4 linked regions of the Homo sapiens genome follow. The protein of the gene in region 1 purifies or fractionates together with the protein of each later gene. This does not show direct contact. Each region holds a gene or a part of one and is shown on either strand. Other genes may lie near its edges.

Region 1 (4,968 bases):
TGAACAGCTGTAGAATCTAGGTAGTTGATATGTGTATGTTCTCTATACAACTTTTTTTACATATCAACATTTTTATAGGATTGAAAAACTTCAATGTTGAGGGGAAAATAAACAATAAGAGCACTCAATAAGGTTAAGATATTATAGAATAGTAATTAATAGCTTTCTTATATCCAAACAATAATTGCAAAACATAATGGAAGAACTATCCCATTCAAAATAGTAGCTGGAAAGATAAACTATCAAGGCAAAAATTTAACAAGGAAATGCAGAACTTATATGAAAAAATATTAAAATTTTAAGAGATAATAGTTGTTTGCTGTTGTTGTTTGAGACGAGGTCTTGCTCTGTCACCAAGGCTGGAGTGCAGTGGCACAATCACAGCTCACTGCAGCCTCCACCAAGTTCAAGGGATCCTCCCACTTCAGCCTCTCCAGCAGCTGTGACCACAGGTGAGTGCCATCATGCCCAGCTAAGTTTTTTTACTACTTTCCGTAGACATGGGGTCTCGCTATGTTGCCCAGGCTGTTCTTGAATTCCTGGGCTCAAGCAATCCTACTGCCTCAAACTTATAAAGTGCTGGGATTACAGGCATGAGTCACTGCACCTGGCCAGATAACAGTTTTTATTGAGGTTTTGGGGCAAGCAAAAATAGAGTTTGTTCATTCTGTTTATTTTCAACCTTTGTTTTCTAATAAATTTATTTTCTAATTTAAAAATACCTCTATGGATCAGGAAAAAGAATTAAATAAATGAAAAGCAATCTACATTGTGGAAAAAGGACCTCATATCCTACAAATCATTAAGGAAAATATAAATAACCAAAAATTTTAATAGACAAATGAATAACACAGATGAATCCTGAAAAATTACACTCAACCAGTGGTGCTGATTTTGCCATCCAGGAGACATTTGGCAATGTCTGGAAGTATTTTAGGTTGTCACAAAGGGGTAGGGTCAGGGATGCATCCTACAGTGCATAGGACAGCCCTCCACAAAAAAGGATTATCCTGTCCAAAACGGCTGTAGTGCCAACACTGAGAAACCCTGTGCTAAGTGCAAAAAGCCATACATATTAAGAATACATATTGTATGTTTCCACTTATTAAAAAATTCTAGAAAAGGCAAAATTACAGAGCCATTCCGAAAGCAAGTAAGGGCTATCTTGAGCTTGGTGTGGGAATAGAGACAGACTGCAAAATAGGCACATGAGAACTTTCGGGGGGTGACAGAAAGCTTCCAAAGCTGGATTGTAGTAATGGCTGCAAAACTATACAGATTTACTAAAACTCACAAAATTATATGGGTGAATTTTGTGGTATATAAATTATACCTCAAAATAGAGCTTTTTTTTTTTAATTGGGCAAATAACCAGGAATTCCACCAAAAAAAGATACCCAAATATTGAATAAGCACATAAAAAGGCACTCAACTTCATTAGTCATCAGGAAAATGTAAATAAAACCACTTATACTCAACAGAATGGCTAACAAAAAACATTAAAGATAATATTAATAACAATACCAAGTGTAAGTGAAGACACAGAGCAACTGGGAAAACTCCCATACCCTACTGATGGGAGTGTAAATTGGTACAACCGCTTTGGAAGATATGTATAACCTATGACCTAGAAAATTCCTTCCCGGTATATATCCAACAGAAATAATGGCACATGTGCACCAAAAGGCACAAGAATATTCATGAATCGTATTTTTTGGTTTTTAATTTAAAAAATTTAAGGCTGGACATGGTGGCTCACACCTGTAATCTTAGCAATTTGGGAGGCCGAGGTGGGCAGATCACTTGAGCCTAAGAATTTGAGACCAGCCTGGGCAACATGGCAAAATCCCGTCTCTACAAAAAATATAAAAATTAGCTGGGCATGGTAGCAGGTGCCTACAGTCCCAGCTACTTGGGAGGCTGGGGTGGGAGGATCACCTGAGCCTGGGGAGTTGATCGCGCCACTGCACTCCGGCCTGGATGACAGAGGTGAGACTCTGTCTCAAGAAAAAATAATAATAATAAAACAAATAAAGATGGGGTCTCCCTATGTTGCCCAGGCTGGTCTTGAACTCCTGGGCTCAAGTGACCCTCCCACCTTGGCATCCCAAAGTGCTGGGATTACAGGCGTGAGCCCCTGCACCGGGCCGTGAATCATATTTTTAACATACAAAAAGTGAAAACAATCCAAATACTACAGAATGGATAAACTATAATATTTCATAAAATACCATAAAGCAAAGAAAAAGATCAAATTACTACTACATGCAACAACATGGATGAAACTCATTCATATAATGTTTGGCAAAAGAAGCCCAACACAAAGGAATATATTAAATGATTACAGGATTAAAAGAATCATGTAAATGATTATATGAAGCCCAAAAACATACCAATAAGACTGCAGTAGTCTAAGAGATGATAGCAGCTTTGACTAGTGAAATGACAGTGAAGAAAGAAAGAAGTATTTTTGAGAAATATTTAGTAGGTAGAATTAACAGGCCTTGGTGTTTAATTAGGTTTGGCGGGGAAGGCAGCAACAGGTGTTAAAAATGACCTCTAGGTCTCTGGCCTATGCAACTGGTAGATGGAAGTGGTAATTACTGAGTGGGAAGACAGAAGGAGCAAATTTGTGACTGACATCATGAGCTGAATTAGTTCATGTTTTGGACTTGCAGTTTAAGGTATCTGTGAGACATCCAAGCAGAAATCTCTAATAGACAGTTGGATGTGTGGATCTGGAGTTCAAAAGGGAGGTCTTAGGGTAAAGATAGAAATTGCACTTAGATGGTAATTGAAGCCATGGGAGAAGACCGGTTCTCTTAAGAAAAGGAGAAGGTGGCCTATACCCAAGCCCTGTGGAATTCCCACACCTTAAAGTCAGAAAGAGGAAGAACCAGCAAAGGAGTGTGACGAACAGACACAGAGGTGGAAGGAAAATCAAGAGTATGGTGACTTAAAAGCCAAAAGACGGGCCAGGTGAGATGGCTCACACCTGTAATCCCAGCACTTTGGGAGGCCGAGGCGGGTGGATCATGAGGTCAAGAGATCGCGACCATCCTGGCCAACATGGTGAAACCCTGTCTCTACTAAAAAAAAAAAAAAAAAAAAAAAATAGAAAAAATTAGCCGGGCGTGGTAGCAGGCACCTGTAGTCCCACCTACTCGGGAGGCTGAGGCAGGAGAATGGCGTGAACCCGGGAGGCAGAGCTTGCAGTGAGCCGAGATCGCGCCACTGCACTCCAGCCTGGGCGACAGAGCGAGACTCCATCTCAAAAAAAAAAAAAGGCCAAAAGATGAACTTTTTTTTTTTTTTTTTTTTTTTTTTGAGACGGAGTCTCGCTCTGTGGCCCAGGCGGGAGTGCAGTGGCGCAATCTCGGCTCACTGCAAGCTCCGCCTCCCGGGTTCACGCCATTCTCCTGCCTCAGCCTCCCGAGTAGCTGGGACTACAGGCGCCCGCCATCACGCCCGGCTAATTTTTTTTTTGTATTTTTAGTAGAGACGGGGTTTCACCGTGTTAGCCAGGATGGTCTCGATCTCCTGACCTCGTGATCCACCCGCCTCGGCCTCCCAAAGTGCTGGGATTACAAGCGTGAGCCACCGCGCCCGGCCAAGATGAACTTTTTAAAGGAAAGAATGGCCAAGTATCTCAAATGGTAATGACAGGTCAAGTAAGATGGTAAGTGTCCCCTGAATTTAGGGACATGAAGAATCTTAAGACCATGGCAAGAGTCATTATTGGGGGAAGTGGTGGGTGGAGGCTGTCAAATAAATAATACAAGAAAATGTCACAGAACTGAAGGACATAAGTCTTTGGATTGAAAGGACCAACCAAGAGCACAGCAAAACGAAAGAAGAAGAAAAGACCTATATCAAAGTACATCACCACGAACAGAGGATAAAAGAAAATCCTAAAGGCTATTAAGAGAAAAAGATGGCAAAGGATCCAGGAAGCCAAATGGCATCAGACATTCAACAGCAACTCTTGCAGCCAAAAGATAATGAATGGAAGAAAGTCTTCAAAACTAACAAATTCTAAATCTTAAAAATTCTTTAAAAACTTACTTTTGAACTAGAATTATATATATTAAGTTGTGACCTTATAATAAAGACATATTTAGACAGGCAAGTTCTTAAAAAATATGTTTTCCATGGATCCTTTCTCAGAAGGCTACTAAAGGTTGTACACAACAAAAACAAGGAGGAAATTCTAACAGGAAAAACAAAGTATTTAAAACATCCTTGAAGTAGTTTGTGTTCCCACTTCTAGGGAAAAAAACTGTAACTCATTATTAAGATAGTAAAAAAGACCTAAACAGAGATAAAACATGCACAGGTGGGAAGACTCAATATCAAAGAGAGGTTAATTTTTCCAAAACTGATTTATAAATTCAATGAAATCTCTCCAAAAAAACACAGATTTTTTGTGGCACTCAACCAGGCTAACTGGAAAATGTACATAGAAGCCCTAAGGGCCAACAATACTACTAAACTATGTTGAAGAAGCAGCAGAAATTTATTTTAATTCTTTCCTAATTAAGACAGTGGGATACTGGTATAGGAATAGACAAATAGATCAATGAAGAGAACGGAGAATGCAGAAACAGACACATGCTACATAACAGGGCACTGCAGAGCAGTGGGGAATTATTTTTCTTCCCAGCAAATAGTTCTGGGACAATTGTGTATCCATATGGGGAAAAAAATGAAACTGGACCCCTACCTCATACCATTTACAAACATCTATTCTAGGTAGATTATAGATCTAATTGTTAAAGAAAAGCAAAATCATAAAGCTTTTAGAAGATAATATAGAAGATTATCTTCATGATCACACATTAGGAAGAAATGTCTTAAACATAACACAAAAAGCATCAACTGTAAAGGAAAAAACTAACAAATTGGACCATGTTAAAGAATTCATAAAAAGACACTACAGTGAGAATGAAAAGACAGGTCTCAGAATGA
Region 2 (4,552 bases), on another chromosome or scaffold:
GGCTTCAGCCTAGATCCTGCGCTGCTCACCCACAGAAAGCCAACCACTGAGATGAGTATTGCAAAGGAAGAAGGCTTTAATCAGATGCTGCAGCCGAGGAGATGGGAGCTCAGTCTCAAATCCCTCTCTCTGACCAACTAAAATTAGGGATTTTTAGTATAGCAAAGAAGAAATGTAACTATGTTTAAGAAAACATGAACTAGGAAGGGGTAAGGAAGCAATCATTTACAAAATATCTGTGGCCGGGCGCAGTGGCTCCCACCTGTAATCCCAGCACTTTGGGAGGCAGAGGCGGGTAGATCATGAGGTCAAGAGATCAAGACCATCCTGGCTAACATGGTGACCCCTTGTTCTCTACTAAAAATACAAAAATTAGTTGGGCGTGGTGGCACGTGCCTGTAGTCCCAGCTACTCGGGAGGCTGAGACAAAAGAATCGCTTGAACCCGGGAGGCGGAGGTTGCAGTGAGTCAAGATCGTGCCACTGTACTCCAGCCTGGCGACAGGGCTAGACTCCATCTCAAAAAAAAAAAAAAACCAGAAAAAGAAAAAAAGTATCTTCACCCTGCCTCCTCAATCTTGGCATAATTCCCCCTGCGAGTGGTTTCTGGGGTCTCAGTTGGCATTTAGTCACACATTGCACATATCGTGTGCACATCTGCACAGCTCAGCAGTGTCCTGGGTAGGCCTTGAAGGGTGATCTTCACGTAAGCCTGTGGCCTGAGCAAGAAAGCTGCACACGGGCAGCGGAGGAACCAGCAGGAGCCCAGTCCTCTGTGGAAAATTCCAGCACCACCCGCAAGAGCAGCTGCAGTGGAGACTGTGACCCGACAAGGATATATGCATGAAGATGCTGGTCTGAAAACAGACTCAGTTTAAGGGTGGCACTTTGAAAAAATATTGATAAATGTCAGTGAGAAAAAAATAATTAGAAACAAAATATATTTATTAGAAATATTACAGTCATTTATCATACACTTTCCTATGAATAGTTAAATACATCTAATTAGCATGTCATATCCAAAAGTGCTGGGTACAATCTAGTGTGCTCTTTATAGACACGAGGCCACAGATGTATCAACTACACTCAACTAATGTAGTTAAAGTTAGTGTGCTAAAAAAAAAAATTAGTGTGCTATTCAGGATGCTACAGATTTAGCAAAATTCTAACCTGGATCAGAGGAGTGAAATGCCCCGTGAATTGAGGCAACTGTAGATATTCGAAATGCTTCTAAAAAGGCTGTGAGGTTATGTCCTTTACTGCATGTCATTGGTAGGTCATCTCAAAATGGCACTCGAGCTTTGGAAGGGTGAGAACTATTGCTAGATTTGGTAGGGGGTCTGCATCTATGGGCCCGAGTCCTCCATCTCCACAAGCTGCCCCTCAGTGGGGAAGAGGAGGGGGAGGCTAAGGGAGTCTCCGTAACGTTTGTGGGCAGCAGGGAAGAGAACATGGCAGAGATTCCTCACCGCTGGATGGCTTGTCCCCTGGGGATGTGTGTTTTTATCTAACACCCACCTGCATCTACTTGGGTTGGTCTCTACAAAAGCTGTAAAACAAAAACTGAATGAAAAAGGAAAATAAAAGACTAATATTTTTGAAATGAGAAGGGGCTAGGACAAGAGAAGCTCCTGAGAATGTTATCCCCGCAGGGCGGGGGCCATGGGTTACCATCAGACAAGGAAAATTCAATCCATGTTCAATGCAGAGAACAGCGACTTCTCACCTTGAAAAACTCTCCAACTCTACTGGGGCTTGCATTTTGCAGCTGTCTTTCATGTAAAAATGATACATTAAAAAAAGGATCTTCAGAACAACTGAAGAATTTTAAATGACTACTGGCTGAGGGAAGATGGAAAGAAATGTGGCTGTTGTGGTCTTTGAAATCCTCAGGACAGAAACTGGGAATGGCACACTCTGCTGAGTATAGAAAAAATAAGATGCTGACCTTGTTTTCCTGCCAACTTTCCACCTTCACCTGGTGCTCTGAGCTCTGTTAAAAACAGACCTAAAAACCCTACCCCTTGGCCTAGCTGGGTTGGGGACTGCCTCCCCCAGGTCCTGCACCTCCACACGCCAGCGGATGGCTTGGGGGAGCCCTACTAGCTGCTGTGCTAGAAGGCCTATTCCTGGACTCCTGAGGCCATCAGTCACAGTTCCAGGACCCCAGCAGAACCTTCCCTTCCCCAAAACACCACCTGTATTTCTTTTTTTTGTGTGTGTGTGTGACAGGGTCTTGCTCTTTGGCCCAGGCCAGAGTGCAGTGGCACAAACACAGCTTACTGCAGCCTCAAACTCCTGGGCTCAAGTGATGCTCCCACCTCAGCCTCCCAAGCAGCTGAGATTACAGGTGCCTATCATTGTACCCAGCTAATTAAAAAACAAAATTTTGGGCCAGGCGCGGTGGCTTACCCCTGTAGTCCCAGCACTTTGGGAGGTTGAGGCAGGCTTATCACTTGAGGTCAGGAGTTCAAGACCAGCCTGGCCAACATGGTGAAACTGTTTCTACTAAAAATACAAAAATATGCCAGGCATGGTGGCATGTGCCTATAATCCCAGCTACTTAGGAGGCTAAGGCAGGAGAATCTCTTGAACCTGGGAGGCGGAAGTTGTAATAAGCCAAGATCACACTACTCTAGCCTGGGTGACAGAGAAGTGAGACGCTCTCTCAAAAAAAAAAAAAAAAAAAAATTTTTTTATAGAGTCAGAGGTCTTGCCATGTTGCCCAGGCTGGTCTCAAACTCCTGGGCTCAAGCAATCCTCCCACCTCAGCCTCCCAAAGTGCTGGGATTATAGGCATGAGCCACCATGCCTGACCACCATGTGTATTTCTATGGACAGGACATGGCATTCCTCTTCTACATGCACACCACTGGCAAATAAAAAAAAAAAAAATGGTAGTCGGGGAAACTCCTGGAGTTGTAAAAATAAATTGTACATGGCCTTTCATGTTTCTTTCCTTCTTTTTAACCTAAAGAGAGCAGGATACAGACAAAAATGGGGGAGTTTGGCCACAGTCATTGGCAACTTGGGCTCCCAGTGGAGAGGGGCTGGTATGGCCCCAGCGGGGAGGGAGGGACACCGCAACGCCATTGCTCAGAGCTGGTTCTAGATGATTTACACGTAATCACTCAAAATAGAGCCAATCACAGGCCAGGTGTGGTGGCTCACTCCTGAGTGAGCTGAAATCGCGCCACTGGCACTCCAGCCTGGGCGACAGAGCAAGACTCTGTCTCAAAAAAAAAAACAAACAAACAACAACAAAAAAAACACAAAAAAACAGCCGGGCTCAGTGGCTCATGCCTGTAATCCCAGCACTTTGGGAGGCTGAGGCAGGCAGATCACCTTGCCATCAGGAGTTCGAGACCAGCCGGGCCAACATGGTGAAACCCCCTCTTTACTAAAAATACAAAAACATTAGCTGGGTGTGGTGATGGGCACCTGTAATCCCAGCCACATGGGAGGCTGAGGCAGGAGAATCGCTTAAACACGGGCGGCGGAGGTTGCAGTGAGCTGAGACGGTGCTATTGCCCTCCAGCCTGGGCAATAAGGATGAAACTCCATCTCAAAATAAATAAGTAAAAATAAAAAACAGAACCAATCACAGAAAACACCCACTCCCACTCCGGGTATCCCAAGACAGCAACTGCCTCCCCACATAAAACCCTGGACTAATTCCAGCTTAAATCTAACAACCAACAGCTCAACTCAACTACTTGGGATATTACTTTCCCCCACTTTAATGGTGGGCAAAGAAGAAGTACAGGGTTAATAAAAAAAAAATGCTTCAAACAAGTGCCTGAATCAGCAGAAGTAGTAACTTTCAGGTTGAATTGGTTCTATGTGTCGAGTTTCATTTAAATACAAAGGCATGGGTGATGTAATGACCATCGCCCAACAGCTGCTCAGGAGCTCCCGCAGGCTGCCTGCCTTGTGGCTGCCAGGGGAAGGTGTCCACCCCTCAGTGGTTCTCCAAGCAGCTGTGCTTCAGTCGCCTAAAGAACTTACAAAACATGTGAACTGCATCTCTGGTCCCATTCCAGACATTCTGAAGTTAACCAACTAGGGCAGCCAAGAGTGTTTTCAAAAGGGTCCACTGTAGGTTCTGATGCAGAGCTGCAGCTGGGATGCACTAACAGGGGGGCGGAGTTCTTGTCTCAAGGTGGCTTGAGAATCAGGGATCTGCTGACCCGTGCAGCCCAGTTGCCACCTCTGCAAAGGTCTGGCTTGGAGGAAGGGACTGAGCTCCTACCTCTCCAGGAATGGTAAGGGGCTGGACCTGCAGCCTCTAGAACCTGGCTCTGAACCAGTGGCTCAGATCAGCAATCAGAGATGTACTTTGAATAGTAATGGCAGTCACTGTCATTCTCGGTGACTCACTGGAAGGATGATCCTTTGTTGGAGGGGCGCTAACACGCTATTTGGCACTTAAAACAGCAAGGGATGGGCATTACCCATTTCCCTCAAACAACTGTGTGAGCCACGCCCTCACTCGCTGTGTAGTGCACACAGATCCGCCCAGAAGAACACGGCAGAGCCACCAGATGGGCACT
Region 3 (4,968 bases), on another chromosome or scaffold:
CCATCCTGGTCCTGCCATGATTTTGCAGATTAGAGAAAGGGCAAACCACAGATAAGCAATGATAGTGCTAGGACCCCAAGACAGATTTCCTGACTCCAGACCTAATATTAATCCCTCTGTGTCACCTTCTCTTGTACTAGTATGTTCTCATTCTTCTATGTATGCTTTGCTCTTAATTTAACATTTGGAATTTCATCATGCTAATTAAAGCAATAAGACAAGAAGAAAAGGCAATTAAAAGGCATCACATGTGTTAGTTTTACCTTTATTCACCAGTTACATTATGTTTCTTTTTTCTCCAGTTCCAGAGTTGACTCAAATGTAGGGCATTCCTTGGGCTACTCTAAGAAACAAACTTTTTTTTTTTTTTTTTGAGACAGGGTCTCTGACACCCAGGCTGGAGTGGCGAGATCTTGGTTCACCACAGCCTCGACCTCCTGGGCTTAAGCCATACCCCCCACCTCAGCCTCCTGAGTAGCAGGGACTACAGGTGTGTGCCACCACACCACGCCTGACCTTTCTTTTTTTTTTTTTTTTTTTGTAGAGACAGGGTCTTGCTTTGTTGCCCAGGTTAGTCTCAAACTCCTGGTCTTGACTGATCCTCCTGCCTTGGCCTCCCAAAGTGCTGGGATGACAGGCATGAGCCAACGTGCCTGACCAGTATTGTTAATTAATACAGTATATGTTCAGCTACTAAATTTCAAATGAGACTAATTATATTCAGAGAATGGCGTATTGCCAAGTGAAATCTTCAGCTCCTTGGTCCATGTCAGCAAGCCTGAAAGAAAACCGCCATAGGCCAAGAGTACTGGGGATAAAAACATACCTTCATCCTCCCCTTGTCTAATCCCTACAATAATACTCAAGGCCTCGTTCCCACATCTTTTCTGAATGGCCCCTTGCCTGTCTGAACAACACAGTGAGGAAGACTCAGGTTACCTCTCCCAGAAGGTCCTAGAACTAGACTAGGTCATTCAACCAATGCTTGTTAAGCACTCCCTATATACAAATATTTTATTACGTCCTGAGTAAAGGAAAGAATCTGGTCTAAACTCTAACTGAAATGGATATAGGCCTCTGGTGTATGAGATTCAAGTCAGAGAATAATGGACAATCCAGGTCATCTGTGCCTGGAGCTGTTCCGCTGCAAATACAAGTGAACAGACAGGCTCAGGCAACTGGGTGACTCCAAATCTGTGACAAGAGATAAGACAGGTCACCACCACAGGTAACAGGCAATGTCCCATGCCCCTCACTGCTGAGCAGCCAGAGGCCTTTTAGGCCTCTAGTCCTCTTATTTACCTTTCTATGTATGTGTCTGTGTATGTACATACATGTGCAAGCTAGTTTTTCAAGAGCCAGCCATCCCATGGAAAATCTGGAAGGGGAAAAAATTCCATAAGCCTGAAAAACCAGGCTTCTACCCGGATGTGAATAAAATGAACAGTAAAAAAAAGGCAACAAGAGTGTGCACTGTGGGCTGGGCACGGTAGCTCATGCCTGTAATCCCAACACTTTGGGAGACCGAGGTGGGCAGATCACTTGAGGTCAGGAGTTCGAGACCAGCCTAGCCAACACGGCGAAACCCCATCTCTATTAAAAATACAAAAATTGGTTGGGCGTGGTGGTACACCCCTGTAATCCCAGCTACTCGGGAGGCTGAGGCACAAGAACTGCTTGAACCCAGGAGGCAGAGGTTGCAGTGAGCCAAGATTGCACCATTTATACCCCAGCCTGGGTGACAGAGCGAGACTCTGTCTCCAAAAAAAAAGAAAAAAAAACCAGCGTGCACTCTGTGGTGCAGGCTAACCCAGTGGTGGACAGCAAGACAGTCTGAATTCAGAGGAGGGAAAAGTTCTTTCTTGTTTCTGGCCCAAACACTTGCTGGGTGGCTGAGAGGACCCTAATGACGTACAGTTCAACCCATGTGATAAACAGGAGGAAGGGAATTCCAGTAAGGGCCTGAGCAAGGGCAGTGACCAGATGTGGAAGGAAGAGAAGCTGAAAGTTCTCATAGGAGAGGACTGGGGAGTGAAGTTAGAGAGACAGGCTGAAGCAAGCTGGGGACAGGCCATGAGCAGCCTGATGGGAAAGTAGAGATTTAGAGATCAACTCAGCCAGAGTGGGAGGATGGGAGATGAAGAGAAGCCAAGTGACAGGCAGGGTGGCTACCAGCCAGATGTACACCTGCACTTGAGGATGAGGGTTACTGTGTAGATTACTAGGAGGTAAGTTTCATGAAGACAGGGTTTTGTGGTGTTTTTTTGGAGACAGGGTCTCACTCTGTCGCCCTGACTAGAGTACAGTGGTGTGATCTTGGCTCACTGTAACATCCACCTCTGGGTTCAAGTGATCCTCCCACCTCAGCCTCCTAAGTAGCTGGGCCTACAAGGCACGCACCACCATGCCCAGCTAATTTTTGTATTTTTAGTAGAGATGGGGTTTCATCATATTGGCCAGGCTGGTCTCAAACTCCTGGACTCAAGCAATCCACCTGCCTCAGCCTCCCAAAGTGCTGGGATTACAGGTTAGAACCACTGCTCCCAGCCAAGACACAGGTTTTTGTCACCACTGTACCCAGGGCTGGCACATGACAGGCACTCAATAACTATTTGTTCAATGAATGAATCAGGGATGAACGTAACAGCTCAGTCCAAGTAAGCTGGACTTGAGCTCAAGTACAGCTGGTTAAGGGCAAGTGTTTGGGCCAGAAAGAATAAAGAACTTCAAACAGAAATACCTGAGGCCAAATCACTCACTGATAAAGAGGACAAGAGTCATCCATCATCAGTTTCCAGTGAATCAGCACTCTGGCCTCCAAAGCACAAGTTAAGAAGATGCAAGGCCAGCAGCATTTCCCCACTAAAAAATTACGTGGGTCTGGCTGGGTGTGGCGGCTCATACCTGTAATCCCAGCACTTTGGGAGGCCGAGGCAGGCAGATCACCTGAGGTCGGGGGTTCAAGACCAGCCTGACTAACATGGAGAAACCCCGTCTCTACTAAAAATACAAAATTAGCCAGGCGTGGTGGCACATGCCTGTAATCCTAGCTACTTGGGAGGCTGAGGCAGGAGAATCGCTTGAACCCGGGAGGCAGAGGTTGTGGTGAGCCAAGATGGTGCCATTGCACTCCAGCCTGGGCAACGAAAGCAAAACTCCATCTAAAAAAAAAAAAAAATTCACACGGGTCCAATATCCTAACCTAAAGTTTGCCACTGCAGTTCAAAACCATCCTGTTTTTCTGGCTTCTATTTCACATTATGCCATAATGGAAGGCTTGTCTACTGGGAGTGAAAATCAATACTAGCCACCATGAAAGATTTGTCAAAAGCCCAGCCCTCTCAAACAACGAACCCCTTTACCTGTCTGGAAAACTCCTATTCATCCTTTAAAATCCATCTCTGGCAAGCCTTCCCTGATGGCCCCTCCTCAGGCTGGTATTTCTATACACTGCAAATACTTCTACTCTTTTTTTTTTTTTTTTTTTTGAGACAGTCTCGCTCTATCACCCAGGCTGGAGTGCAGTGGCACGATCCTGGCTCACTGCAAGCTCCGCCTCCCAGGTTCACGCCATTCTCCTGCCTCAGCCTCCCGACTACAGGCACCCGCCACTATGCCTGGCTAATTTTTTGTATTTTTAGTAGAGATGGGGTTTCACCGTGTTAGCCAGGATGGTCTTGATCTCCTGACCTCGTGATCTGCCCGCCTCGGCCTCCCAAAGTGCTGGGATTACAGGCGTGAGCCACCGCACCCGGCCTACAAATACTTCTACTCTTAATGTCATCACTATAATTTTTAAATTTCCTTTATGAATTCCTTGAAAAAAAAAAAAGGCTGTCTCTTACTTGTCTGCTTATCAAGGTTCAGCATAGTACTTAACCAGTTGATGTAAACAGAACCAATTTTCACCCTTCTATTCTAAATTAAATTCTAACCCTCAGCTCCAATTCACTGGCAGAGGTTCCCACAGCTCAGAGCAAGCATAAAGCAGGACAAGGGTGCCAGTGGCAGAAGGCAGAGAAGGGGCTCTGCAGTTGGGGAAGGGGGTGCAGGTTGGGAAGAGTCCCCAGGCTGCAGTGGTGTCTGCACAGTCTCCTCCAGTGTCTATAGGAGTAATTGTTTCATATCTGATACCACCTCGGGCTAAAGGGCTAATGAGCAACTCCTCTCCTGGAGGCCCAGGTGCATGGAGGGAAGTCACTGGTCACACAATACCCTTTGGGTCGGTGTGAATCGTCAGAGCAGCAAAGGCTAAGTTCAAACAAAAATACTTCCTAGGAGTTTCTGGGCCAAGATTTTATCTACTGCATTCCCATATATTTATGGTCACCATCTCTAAATTTCCGCTCAGCTGTAATTCAATCATTTGAGAAATATTTTTCTGACTGCCAACTATGTAGAGGGTACACTGTTAGGCTCTGGGGAACACAGAGATGCTTCTCAGGTAACACACACTTGAACAGGGGGGTTAAAACACAGCATACATAACTGTCACCAGGGAAAGGATGAAAAGAGTTAAGGAATTAAGAGAAGAGAAAGATTAATCCAGGTAGAAAGATTAAGAAAGGCTCTGCAGAAAGGAGAGCTTAAGTAGACCTTGAAAGTTGGATGGGAGACAAGAAAATGGAATTCACGGAGATTGAAGAAGGGCACCTCACCACCCCACAGGGCAAAATGAGACCTCTTCTAGGCAGGAGGAATTCCATGACCAACGGCACAGAAGAGGAAACAGAGTATGGTAAGGAAACAGCAAGTGACTGAGAACAGAATCTAGGGTACCTCTATCAGATGCACACAGTAGATGAAGCACACAGTGGGGACTCAATAAATGCTGAAAGAAGTGGGATAAGTCTGGAAGAACTCTAATGGAAAACTAAAGATACTGGCTCTATTCCAAGACTCCGTCTCCAAAAAAAAGATACCGGATCTATTCTGTAAAACAGAAAACAGGAGTTTTGGCCAGGCGCG
Region 4 (4,968 bases), on another chromosome or scaffold:
CAGAGACAAGTTAAATGACACCACAAAGAAGCAAATGGCTAAATTAAAAATGTAACACAAATGACCTGGTTTCTCCAATAAATGAATAGCATGGAAAAAAGGGTGGTAAGGGAGAATGGATATTAGAGAAGAAAAAAATGATTTAAGAAATTAAAAACCCAAGTATAATGTGGGACTTTGGATCCCGACTCATACTAACCAAGTATAAAAAAATTTTTTTCAGGCAATTTGGCAAATTTTAATATGGATTTAATATATCATTTGTGTAGTAGATGATAAAGGGCTTATTAGTTTCATTAGATATTATAATGGCATAAGGTGTGTGTGTTTAAGGCCTGATCAGTTAGAGATGCACTCTGAGGTTTTTCTGAGCAATATGTTTCATTTTCATATGAGACGCATTTACATGTGAAATGGGCTTTGCTTTAATATACTCTAGTGGGGAAAGCATGTTATGGGGAATATGTAAAACAAGGAGACTGCTGAAACACAGGAACAGATACGTGGAGGTTCATTTTACTTTTTTCTCTCCACTTTTAAGATTGTATAGCTCAACATTCTCTAAAAAGCTACCGTCCTACACAGAAGTCTTTCTTTTTTTCTTTTTTGCTCAACTAACCAAGGTACAAACATGGCTACGACCTGGCAGAACCATGCCATACCAAAGCTGTATGTCCTGCAGAACTCACCTGCTCGGACGATAATTGCTGCTTCTCCTGCTTCCACTGGTTTATCTGTGGCTTTGGCTTTTTGGGATGGACGGGCTTCACTTTGCCTTTGTCCCGCAACCTGAAATAACATGGCTGAGTGTCACCTTGAGTCCTTCTTCTAATTTGACACCCCTAGGTTCTCTTTGTACACTGGCCCTTCCCAAGCCCATGATAAGTGAAGTCATTCTAAAAAGGGATACTGCAACAGACCCTCTGAAAGCTCAACATTTGTATACTTAGGACTGCTTGATGCCAGGAGTTTGAGACCAGCCTATGCAACATAGCAATCCCCCGTCTCTACTACAACGAAATTAAAAAGTCCCAGCTACTCAGGAGGCTGAGGAAGGTGGATTGAGTCCAGGAGTTGAGGTTACAGTGCGCTATGATCATGCCACTGCACTCTAGCCTGGGCAACAGAGCAAGACCCTGTGACATGGTTTGGATCTGTGTCCTTGCTCAAATCTCACGTTGAATTGTAATCCCCAGTGTTGAAGGCTGGGCCTGGTGGGAGGTGACTGGATCATGGGGATGACTCCTTCATGAATGGTTTAGCGCCATCCCCTCAGTGCTGTTCTCGTGACGGTGAATGAGTTACCACAAGATCTGGTTGTTTAAAACACTCCCCCCTGCTCCTGGCCATGTGATGTGCCAGCTCCCACTTCACCTTCCACTATGATTAAGTTTCCTGAGGCCTCCCTAGAAGATGAGCAGCTGCTGTCATGCTTCCTGTACAGCCTGTGGAACCATGAGCCAATTAAGCCTCTTTTCTTTTCTTTTTTTTTTTTGAGACGGAGTCTCGCTCTTTCGCCCAGGCCAGAGTGCAGTGGCGTGATCTCGGCTCACTGCAAGCTCCGCCTCCCGGGTTCACGCCATTCTCCTGCCTCAGCCTCCCCAGTAGCTGGGACTACAGGCGCCCGCCACCGCACCCAGCTAATTTTTTGTATTTTTAGTAGAGACGGGGTTTCAGCATGTTAACCAGGATGGTCTCGATCTCCTGACCTCGTGATCCACCCGCCTCGGCCTCCCAAAGTGCTGGGATTACAGGCGTGAGCCACCGCGCCCAGCCAAGCCTCTTTTCTTTATAAATTACCCAGTCTCAGGTATTTCTTTATAGCAGTGGAAGAACTGAATAATACACTGTCTCTAAAAATAAAATAAATAAATAAATAAAACCCCATGGATATCTCAAAAACCTTCATTTATTTAACAAATATTTTGTAAAGATTTACTTTTGTAGAGCACTAATCTGCTGTCCCAAACAGAAACTACAACTGAACCTCAAGTATGTGGTCTCAGCTGGCAGAGATGGCCATCTGGACAAGAGGAAGCTCTTCAAAAGAGGAGAAAAGGGGCACAAAAGCCTGCCCTAGGAGGCCCCTCTGCCATTGATCTAAGAGTGACATCTCTGATGGTGTTGAAGACTCGCGTGTTAACCCCATGTGTGGGAATACATAGCACCAAACATCCTTTTCAACCAAACAAATGCCACAAAGAGAAAATAACTCAGCAAAAACAAACCCGCTTAGAACCCACCCACTGTTCTGTGCTTCTGCCCTCCTGCATCTCACCTGATTTTGGGGCCTCGGTGTGAGGGGAGCGCCAGGACCTTTCTTCTCTTCTTTCCATCAGGCAGCTCCACCTGCTCCACTTCAGCCTTGGTCTGGAACCCGGTCCATGAGGTAGAGCCCGCCTTTCTCTTCTGCTCTGGGGGCACCTTGCTTTGTTCCTCTGTGTGGTGTTGAGCTGCCTTCTGTTGCTGGTCTTTTGCAGGCTCTGGTTGCCCCTTCTGAGGCTCACCAGTTGCAGGCTTGGATCTCATTTTTTGCTGCATAAAACAAGAAAATGCCATCTGGTTTCTGGATGAGCTTTGTTTGCTGCAAATACTCAGCAGAAGATGAGCTTTATGTGAGCTAGATGAAAGAAGAGGAATTCTTCCCCCACACAATTGGAGACTAGAGGAAAGTGAATACATGTAGATCACAAGCCCTGCCACAGTAACAGATGGTTACTGGGTGGGGGGCACAAAATAACCATTCCCCTTCCCATAACACAGAAATAAGGGAGAGTGCATGCCCAAAATTCAAAAGTCAGTAGGTGGGACAATTATCAAAGGTGTAACCTATGTAGAAGGAGAATACAAGAAGAAAGCAAGCAACAGAAAAGATAATGAAGTAATAAGGGCTGAGAATTTTTCAAAACTAATGACAGTCACTAAACCACAGATCTAGGAACTCAGAGAAGACCAAATAAGATAAATACTAAACAATTTACAACCAGTCATATCATAGACAAACTGCAGAAAATCAAAGATAAAATCTTGAAAGAAGCCAGACAGGGGAAAAATTTTACCTATAGAGGAACAAGGATGAGATTACATCAAATCTCTCTCTCTTTTGTTTTTAATAGGCACCCTCCCAAACCAGAGTAGATTGAGAGAGATTTCCAAGACTTCTCTTCAGAAACCATGTAAGCAAGAAGGGAGTGAAGTGAGATATTTAATATTTAAATTTTTAAAAGAAAAAAAAATCACCAACCTACAATCCTGTATCCGATAAACTTATCCTTCAAAAGTGAAGGAAAAGACTTACTCAGACAAAAGAAAATGGAGAGAATTTGTTGCCAGTAGACCTGTCTGCAAGAAATGCGAAATAATCTCTTCAGAGAGAAGAAAAATGACATAGGTCAGAAACTGATCGTTTTCAAGAAAGGAAGAACATCAGGAATGGAATAAATGAAGTAAAGACGACAAGAAAAAGATGCTGTGGGAAGGAAGGCATCAAGGAAGTTATAGAAGTATTTGCACTGAAGTGGAAGAAACAGAAGATTCAAGTGAAATTAATGTAATGATAAGTGTGTGTTGTTCTTCCCTTTCACCTTAGAAATCTAGATAGGTACAACGATACAATGAACATTTATTATATGCCTAGTGTGTGCCAGTCTGTTTCCAGGATACAAAAAAATAGTGTCTACCCTTCAGGACTCACAGCCAGGTGGAGATAAGAGATGCATTCACAAATAAACCAAAGTAAAAAAAACTACACAGCTTAAGGAAGTTCATGAAAATCAAGTAAAGAGGGCCTTATATCTTTTGAGAGAGGTGGAGGCATGCAACTTGAAAGAGATCATTTGATCTGCATATGCAAAGTGAGTAGAGGCATTTTTACACAGAAAGAACAGTATGAATATAAATCCAGGCAACAAATAAAGTAATTTGGATGTTAAAAAACAAACTAGGCTGGGCTCAGTGACTCACGCCTGTAATCCCAGCACTTTGGGAGGCTGAGGCAGGTGGATCACTTGAAGTCAGGAGTTCGAGACCAGCCTGGCCAACATGGTGAAACCCTGTCTCTACTAAAAAAATACAAAAATTAGCCGGGTATGGTGGTGTGCACCTGTAGTCCCAGCTACTCAGGAGGCTGAGGCAAGAGAATCACTTGAACCCAGAAGGTGGAGGTTGCAGTGAACTGAGATTGTGCCACTGCACTCCAAACTGAGCGACACAGCAAGACTCCATCTCAAACAGAAAAACAAACAAAACTGGTAGCTTCAGAATCACCTCTGAAACAATGGCTAACAGTAATAAACAATTCTATTATCTGGGGAACAAAGTTGCCTTGAACAATAACCAGATCCCAGATTTTCCAACCTAGGGCCACTGCATTAACCACCAGAATGGCTCGTCTGTTGGTAATCCTCTTGGTATATACCACAAAGACTACAAATGTTTGCTGTATATGCAAGGGAACTTTGCTGTGCAATATCAATGAGAGCTCTAAGAATGACAGAGTCAAGAATAATCTGGCCCTGTATGTCCTGGGGGAAGATGGGTAAGAGAATGAGTACTGACTGCGTGCTGACCATGCAGTATGCTAGACGATGGACATGTATTATCTCATTTAGTCCTCAGCAATCATGTGAGGCAGATGTTGTCCACCCCATTTTACAAACTGAAGTTCAGAGCGGTAATAACTGCCAAGGAACATGCAGCAAAAAGGGCAGAGCCAGAGTATGAGCATGAGTACACGTATTCCTAAAGTCCCTGCTCCACCTTCTATACCACACCAGATTAAAAACAGTACTAAAACTATCAGGCTTCACACTTCTGGAGCCAACTAATAAAAGAAAATATGGAAGAGATAACTGAAATCTACAGGTAATGGGAAACCTTAACCTCAACCATTAATTTTGGCACGTACTATCACCAAACACTGTAAAAAACGGCTGACTGGAAATAACATTGGTCTGCTTCCTCTCTCCT

Evidence for each region.
Region 2: the proteins of SLK (region 1) and SPECC1 purify together in Homo sapiens (affinity purification with mass spectrometry, with the first as the bait; one large-scale study listed by BioGRID). This does not show direct contact.
Region 3: the proteins of SLK (region 1) and PTPN23 purify together in Homo sapiens (affinity purification with mass spectrometry; one large-scale study listed by BioGRID and IntAct). This does not show direct contact.
Region 4: the proteins of SLK (region 1) and RBM28 purify together in Homo sapiens (affinity purification with mass spectrometry; one large-scale study listed by BioGRID and IntAct). This does not show direct contact.

The regions. Positions count from the first base shown.
Region 1 is NC_000010.11:103,972,974-103,977,941, reverse strand, and holds part of SLK (STE20-like serine/threonine-protein kinase), read right to left. Parts: intron 1-4,968. UniProt on the Homo sapiens protein: Mediates apoptosis and actin stress fiber dissolution.
Region 2 is NC_000017.11:20,315,398-20,319,949, reverse strand, and holds the end of SPECC1 (cytospin-B), read right to left. Parts: 3' UTR 924-4,552; downstream 1-923.
Region 3 is NC_000003.12:47,382,976-47,387,943, reverse strand, and holds part of PTPN23 (tyrosine-protein phosphatase non-receptor type 23), read right to left. Parts: intron 1-4,968. UniProt on the Homo sapiens protein: Plays a role in sorting of endocytic ubiquitinated cargos into multivesicular bodies (MVBs) via its interaction with the ESCRT-I complex (endosomal sorting complex required for transport I), and possibly also other ESCRT complexes.
Region 4 is NC_000007.14:128,312,486-128,317,453, forward strand, and holds part of RBM28 (RNA-binding protein 28), read right to left. Parts: intron 2,536-4,968; coding exon 2,279-2,535; intron 790-2,278; coding exon 690-789; intron 1-689. UniProt on the Homo sapiens protein: Nucleolar component of the spliceosomal ribonucleoprotein complexes.